Homo sapiens: one gene and its partner. The protein of the gene in region 1 purifies or fractionates together with the protein of each later gene. This does not show direct contact. Each region holds a gene or a part of one and is shown on either strand. Other genes may lie near its edges.

Region 1 (3,592 bases):
TGATTTAATACAGGAACATTGCATTTTGAATCTGCATTTGGAGACCACCTGCTCCAGGCAACTACCGGTAGCTTTCAAAAGTGTACTGTTAGATAAAATAACCCCTTTGAAGAGGTTAACATCTCTGAATACACTGCAGCACTTTCATATGAGATAAAATGCTTAATAAGAAAATTTGGCCCTTGAAGCCCCTGAGGTTTGAAGATATGCCCAGAATCACTCAACCTCAGGGGTAGCGGGGTGCCTGCTGGTCATCCCAGGATGCCTTCAGCATCACTTTGTGGATCTGGATTAAAAGCCAAAATGCAGAGTATTTTTTTTTCTCAGAAGCCTGATTCTTCAGCAATCCTATTTCTCAGAAATCACAAGCAACTAATCAGCATGTGTGATTTGCTACATGACTTTAGAAACACCTGAAGACATATGACTTGGCTGTGGATTTGGAAGGGTGATACTCATACAAGTGGTTGACATGTCATGAAGAGGAACAACACATACAGATAAAAAACAATTTTGGCAAGCTTTAATGATTGATGGAATACAACAAGATGAAATTTAACAAGAATAAATAAGAGCCACTTCGATCTAAATGTGCGTTTATAAGATTAGAGTGGGAGAAACAGGACTATGTGGCATCATGAGTGACAATGATACAAAGTGACGCAATCACGAAGTGTGGCTGCCAAAAAGTCAATGTTGTATTAAGCTGAAAAACAGAAGCACATTATCTAGAATAAGGGAGGTTATGGCCCTGTGTGTCACTGTATCATCCAGCACATACAGACATCACATCTTAGAAGGAATACAAAGAAGCAAATATATTCCAAAACCTGCAAGCAGCTGATGAAGTGTCGGAAAACTATGTCATATGGCAAACATTAGAAGAAACAGGATGTTTAGCCTGAATAGAAGTGATGGTTTAGATGGCTCGAGATACTTTTCTTCAGATATTAAGTATTCTCAAGCAGCAGGCAAGTTGAGATTTTTATTTGCATGTGTTCCAGAAATGCAACAAGGTCAATGAAGGAAAGCTACGGGCAAATCCTATTCTATTTCAATATAAGGAAATAACTTTTGGGCAATTTTTGGCAAGATGGAGTGAGTGATCTCTCTATTTGTGAAGGTGTTTGAGCAGAGATTTGAGCCACTACATTTGGCAGGTACAATTGTGTTAAAAATTCAGTCATAGAATGAATCTTTTTCTATATCTAGGAAACTATAATTCTAAGAGAATAAAATTCTCAAAATCTAGGTATATGGCTGAAAAGAAGAGATATGTAAATTGCTTTTGTAAGTCAAATGTTCACCAGAGAGCAAGAGGTAGGTGATGCCATTTATTCTGAGTAGTAGTATCTTGAATGCTGCATGTTCTTACAAACAGTCAACACAAGATATGCTGAGAGAACCTTATGGACACTTCTGTGACCTAAGCTTAGTTAAATCCTTTTCAGCACTCTTTCTGTTGAGAAATTAGATTATTTAAAAAAGATCAACCTTGATACATTGGAAATCACTATGTCTTTTGTGTTTAGTCAGCCACCAAAATCCTCTATCCAGTCTCCTTGTTCATTAAAATGTATACCATGGTTGGAAAACATTGAGCCAAATATGAGTGCAAGTCATGAATGGGCTGAAGTTTGCCTTTGTGCTTTTTAGTATGTCTCCTCCCTCTTGCACGTATATGTACAGTAGCAGAAAGACTCCATGTTCTCATTACCACTTAAAAGCAGTTTTTAGTGGGAATAAACTCTCCAGGAAACATTCCTTCAAGATAACAGAAAATACAGAATATTTTAATTTTATAATGAAGAGGTGATATGAAAAATATAATTTTCCTTAAATTTATACCAAGAATTTTCAGAAAGAAAAGATTTCACAGAACTCTCTCTGTCTGTAAAGTGATCTTTTGAAGTCAAATATTTTCTTGAGGGTTAAGCAGTTTCAAATAATGTTGGAGTATAAGGAAACTGGGAGAAGTGGGGGAAGGGTAACCAATTCAGGAACTTGGTTTGAAAAGTTCATGGTTTTCCAAGTTGGATAAAATAAAGAAAACCAGAACCCAGTGGATTGGCATCTCTTGAATCTATTTACTAGGACAGTTAACATCACCATGGTCAGTATTAACCTCATGGGTCACTGCATCTGGAAGCCAGTCAAAATGAGTCAGCATCTGTTTGTTATTTTGTATATGTAGTAAAAATATTGCCTTAGGTCAATTAAATTTTTCTTCAAAAAGTGAACATTGCCTCAGCATAATTTCCCTTTTTCTCCTTAAAAAAAATCACAAAACAACTTGCCATTCTACTTAAAATATTACGTAGAGCTAGTAGATACCATACTTCATTGTCAAACAGGTCCGTGATTTGTAATGAATATTGTGGTCGGGGGAAACCCTTGAGTAGTTTCTAATAATTCTTAGACATTTGAACATGGAATAGAGTATAGGCTAAGACTGGTTTTAATTTTACTTCATATAAAGCAGAGAAGACTACTTACCAGATGTTGTCCTACTTCAAGTTACTCTAAAATCTTGGGGTAAATTACAGCTGAACTTCAAAGCAGTCCGTTACAATTACCTCTCAGACTTTTTCAATGTATGATAATAATAATAAAAAGAAACAGGTATATATTGATCACTATCAACAGCAATCTCTAGAACAATGTTGGAAGTTAAGGATTTTGAAATACTTTGCAAACTGTGGTTTACTAGAGAAATTAGATCAATTAGTTTATGGCATCTACCAAGTTCTACTATTGTTACTTTCCACATTTTTTTTTCTTTTTTTTTTTTCTTAAGACACCTAGTATATTATCTGTCTTCTCCAGGGCAACCTTGGAAAAGATACCTTTGAATAAAATTGGCGTTTTATAAAAACGCTATGCTTAATTATGATTGTGGAGCAAGTGTGAATTGCATGGAAAGGAGAGCAAGGAAATGAATATTTACCGAGAATTTACTATGCACAAGATATCATGCTAGTATGTGGCACTGACAAATTTTATGTCTAAGGTTTTTTTTTTTCAAAAGATTATTTCTCTTTCAAATAAGATTTACAATAAATTTCTGATATGTGACCAATGGTAAAATTGCAGTAGCATTTTGCAAACACAAAGATGAAAACCTCTTTGGAAAAGAGCTATCTGCTTATTTTTTTTACTTCTCTGTATGAGTGAAACTGATGTCCTATGAATCCACTCAAAATTAATTAACGCACATCACTGCCCTCTTCTTTTCTTTCTCATCAGTGGGCAACCAGCAGCAGAAGTCTTGTGGGGTCATTATGTTTCATAGCAGGCAGAAGCAGTCTGGCTGTTTTTGCTGTTTCTGCTCTGCTCTGAGGCATGGCACTCCTAGCCATAGCACTCAGCTTTCTCTCACCTCTCAGACAGTTGGGGCCTTCATAGGGCCTGTGGCAGTCACACTGGTAACTCAGCCACAAGTTGATGCAGCGTCCTCTGCTTTGACAAGGTTGGCTTTCACACCAATCCTTTCTCACACAGCCTGCCTTGACATTTAATGATGAGCCAGACGAGATGTTCTCCAGGGTAATGTGATTCCAATCAATTTTAATGTCTTGGAGACAGCCTACAA
Region 2 (3,592 bases), on another chromosome or scaffold:
ACCAGGACTGAGATTGTATCCTATCTAAGCATAGTGCCTGACAAGTGTTCTCAGCTACTTCTCAGCACTGCTCCCCACCCTGCACCATGTATTGCATGATACATTGCCTTCTTTTTATGCAAGAGCAGCTGAGTACCTAGATTCAGGGAATTTCAGTTAGACTGAATGGAGCTATTTTCATCCATTTCCTATTACGTTTTGGTTTATATAGGTTTTTTTGTTTGTTTGTTTTGAGACAGAGTCCTTGCTCTGTCGCCCAGGCTGGAGAGCAGTTGATGCAGGATTTTTCTCAACCCCTTTGTCATACTTGCGACAGAGGTGCGCTGCTTACTTGGCCACTGTGCTCAACTGTTTGCGGGAGGGAGCACATGAACGAGCAATTGCAGGATCCATGCAGCGGCACCCAGGTGGGGGTGCCTGCGACTCCAAAGCCCCTGAGGGCATGTTAGAGTGCTCTCTTAGTTCTGCCGTCCACGGACAGCGGTGTGTTATCAGCTCAGTTGGCCCCTTGCCTCATAGTGTGGGGTAGCTGCCCTCCGCCAGTGAGGGCAAAGGGCCAGTGTAACAGCCTTATTTTGGGTACCCACACTCGGTGTGTCCCGAGCTCTTGTCCAGTGTTCAAGAAGAATGAGGTCACCTGGACACTTGAAGGATGGTGAAGGCAGAGAGTTTTATTAAGTGATGGAAATGGCTCTCAGCAGAGAGGGGAACTGGAGTGGGGGTGGGACGGGTAGGTAATCTTCCCCTGAAGTCCGGCCATCTCTTCCCTGAAGTTAAGCCATCTCTCCTCCGAAGTCCAGTCATCCCTTTGAAGTCAAGTTGCCTCTCTCCCCTCTACTACCTGGGTCTGGAGTCTTTAAAGGCACAACATGGGAGGAGTGGGCAGGGTGGGCTGTGGGTAGTTTTGGAAAAGGCAACAATCGATTGGTAAAAAGACATTATTTAGAAAGAACCAGTTGGGCTGGGCGTGGTGGCTCATGCCTGTAATCCCAGCACTTTGGGAGGCTGAGGTGGGCAGATCACGAGGTCAGAAGATCAAGACCATCCTGACCAACATGGTGAAACCCCATCTCTACTAAAAATACAAAAAAATTAGCTGGGTGTGGTGGTGCGCACCTGTAGTCCCAGCTACTCAGGAGGCTGAGGCAGTAGAATCACTTGAATCCAGGAGGCGGAGGTTGCAGTGAGCCGAGATTGCGCCACTGCACTCCAGCCTGGCGACAGAGTGAGACTCCATCTCAAAAAAAAAGAAAGAAAGAACCAATTGGGAGAGAGTGGGCAAGCAGGAATAGAAGTTCTCACTTTGGCCTGTGGGTTTCAGGCTTTTCAGCTCAAAGGTTGGGTTTCACTGGGGACCCACCCTTGTCTGCCTAGAATTTCTCTGCCTCCTGCCTCTATCACAGCGGCGCGATCTTGGCTTACTGCAATCTCTGCTGCCCGCGTTCAAGTGATTCTCGCGCCTCAGCCTCTTGAGTAGCTGGGATTACAGGTGTGAGCCAGGGTGTCTGGCTGTGTTTTATATATTAATAGTTTTTAATCTTATGTAGTACCTTTCATACTATCCTGATAGTACAACCAGTGTTTCTATTTTATTTTATAGGGATGACATTTTAACTATTTAAAAATGTTAAAAAATTGTTTTTAAAAACCACCAAAATATTATTTGACTAAAACAACTAAAGAAAATTAATGATATATAACAGTCTGTCACTTTCCAAATATAAAGTGTCTAATTTATTACTTTGTTATCTCACATTACAGACAATGTGCCCTGTGTGTCTAGATCGTCTGAAGAATATGATTTTCCTTTGTGGTCACGGAACCTGTCAACTCTGTGGAGACCGCATGAGTGAATGTCCTATCTGTCGCAAGGCTATTGAACGAAGGATTCTTTTGTATTAACTAAGACACATGGTGTATTTTGTTAGCTAATGTATCTAGTCATGAGATCTTAATAGGCTTTTGATCTAGTTGGAAGTTCTGATGAGTTAATTTCTAATATCATAGTTTCTTTACTAGAGTATAATTGGGCTGTAAATGTACCAGAACAAAAAACCCTACAAAATGGTGTTGGAAATTGTGTTTTTTGTTTTTGTTTTAAATTTGAAACATCAAATTCATGTAACTCATAGGATAATTTACCTTTGGCTTCTAAGAGGAAAGTCCTTTAAGGATATCCTTTTTTAAAAAATTGCATTTTTCTCTTATAATTTGTAAATTTGTTGGATCTCAAAAGACATAATTCTTTGTGATCAGTTATCCTTCATTTCATCGTGGTTTTACACAGTGAGTTGATAACAGGTTCTCTGAGAAGTCATGCATCAAATAAAAGAGGCAGGTCAAACAATTATGTCACATGGTAAATTATAAAATGACAGTACAAGTTCCAGATAGTTAAGGGAATACCGAAGGGATGATTCTTTTTTTAAGATAACAGGAAGTTACCCACATGTTTGTTTCTGAATTCTTAGAGTAAATGGAAGCATAGAATGAGGGAATAATGACTTTGCATTTCTCTTGTTTTCTAGATTCAAAAGGAACATTGTTTAACTTGAATCAGATTACCAGTTTCAAGGTGACTGATAGACAAGAAAAGGAAAAATAAGCAATAATAGTGGGCAACTGAAGAGAAAAAAAAAACGAGTATCTATTAACTGGCCACTAACAGTTGCCTTTCTTACATTAATTTATACACTATTTTGTTCAGCCAGTGTTTTTAAAAAAAATCTATGAAAAGTGTACTTCCGGTTTTCTGTGATTACTTATCTGGGCTTGATCTGACCAGTGAAATGACATTGCCCTATTTGGACCTCTGAGGTTCTATTTAGCTTTGCAGATGTACATAGTATCCCAGTGATCTGCAAAATTAATGCCTTTTCCAAGAAAAAATCTTTTCTTCTCTGTATCAGTTAATTCTGACAGTGTTAGTGATTCTGTCTTCATTATAGGCCTTATTTCCATTATCTCTTTCTTTATAGTATTTTTTGTTATAAAGAAAACAGTCTTTCTGTGTATACCTACGGATGAGGGTATTATTTAAACTGCCAACAATATCCAAGACATGGTCAATAACCTAATTATAAATACTTTAGAAAGAGTGACCAGGACATGTATAGAAATGTCTGCTTACCTGTAGACTTTAAAAACAAACAAAATTTTTGGAGCATTTAATCATTTTTTTTCTCCTTTTATCTCCTTTGTAATCTTATTGTCTCCTGAGTAAATATACACATAAATGTTTGGGGATTCATTGCTGCTAGATTATATCAGGTGTTTACATAGTGTCTACTATATGCTGTTGATAAGCTTTTTCCTAAAAATAGTTATCCTCTTTTGTAGTTTTTTTCCCTCCTTTAAATCTGGCTAGCTTTTCTTACTTCAGTTTTTATAGAACACCAACTAAATTTGAAAGTATGAAGTCTCTAGCCCTCTTACACTGTTTCTGGCTGTTTAATCCTTGCTGCCTTTGCAAGTCCTGGTGAAAGCAATGGGGAGCTTTGCTGGCTGGTTTTGTAGTCTCAACAATTCCATGTCTGTGTTTAGCTGAGTAACTGCTATCATTTAGAACAGTAAAATTTTTATAGATTTCAAA

What was found. The genes of interacting proteins can lie anywhere in the genome.
Region 2: the proteins of CRB1 (region 1) and MIB1 purify together in Homo sapiens (affinity purification with western blotting, with the first as the bait; one study listed by BioGRID). This does not show direct contact.

What each region holds. Positions count from the first base shown.
Region 1 is NC_000001.11:197,421,744-197,425,335, reverse strand, and holds part of CRB1 (protein crumbs homolog 1 isoform 1 precursor), read right to left. Parts: coding exon 3,380-3,592; intron 1-3,379. UniProt on the Homo sapiens protein: Plays a role in photoreceptor morphogenesis in the retina. May maintain cell polarization and adhesion.
Region 2 is NC_000018.10:21,862,765-21,866,356, forward strand, and holds part of MIB1 (E3 ubiquitin-protein ligase MIB1), read left to right. Parts: intron 1-1,761; coding exon 1,762-1,902; 3' UTR 1,903-3,592. UniProt on the Homo sapiens protein: E3 ubiquitin-protein ligase that mediates ubiquitination of Delta receptors, which act as ligands of Notch proteins.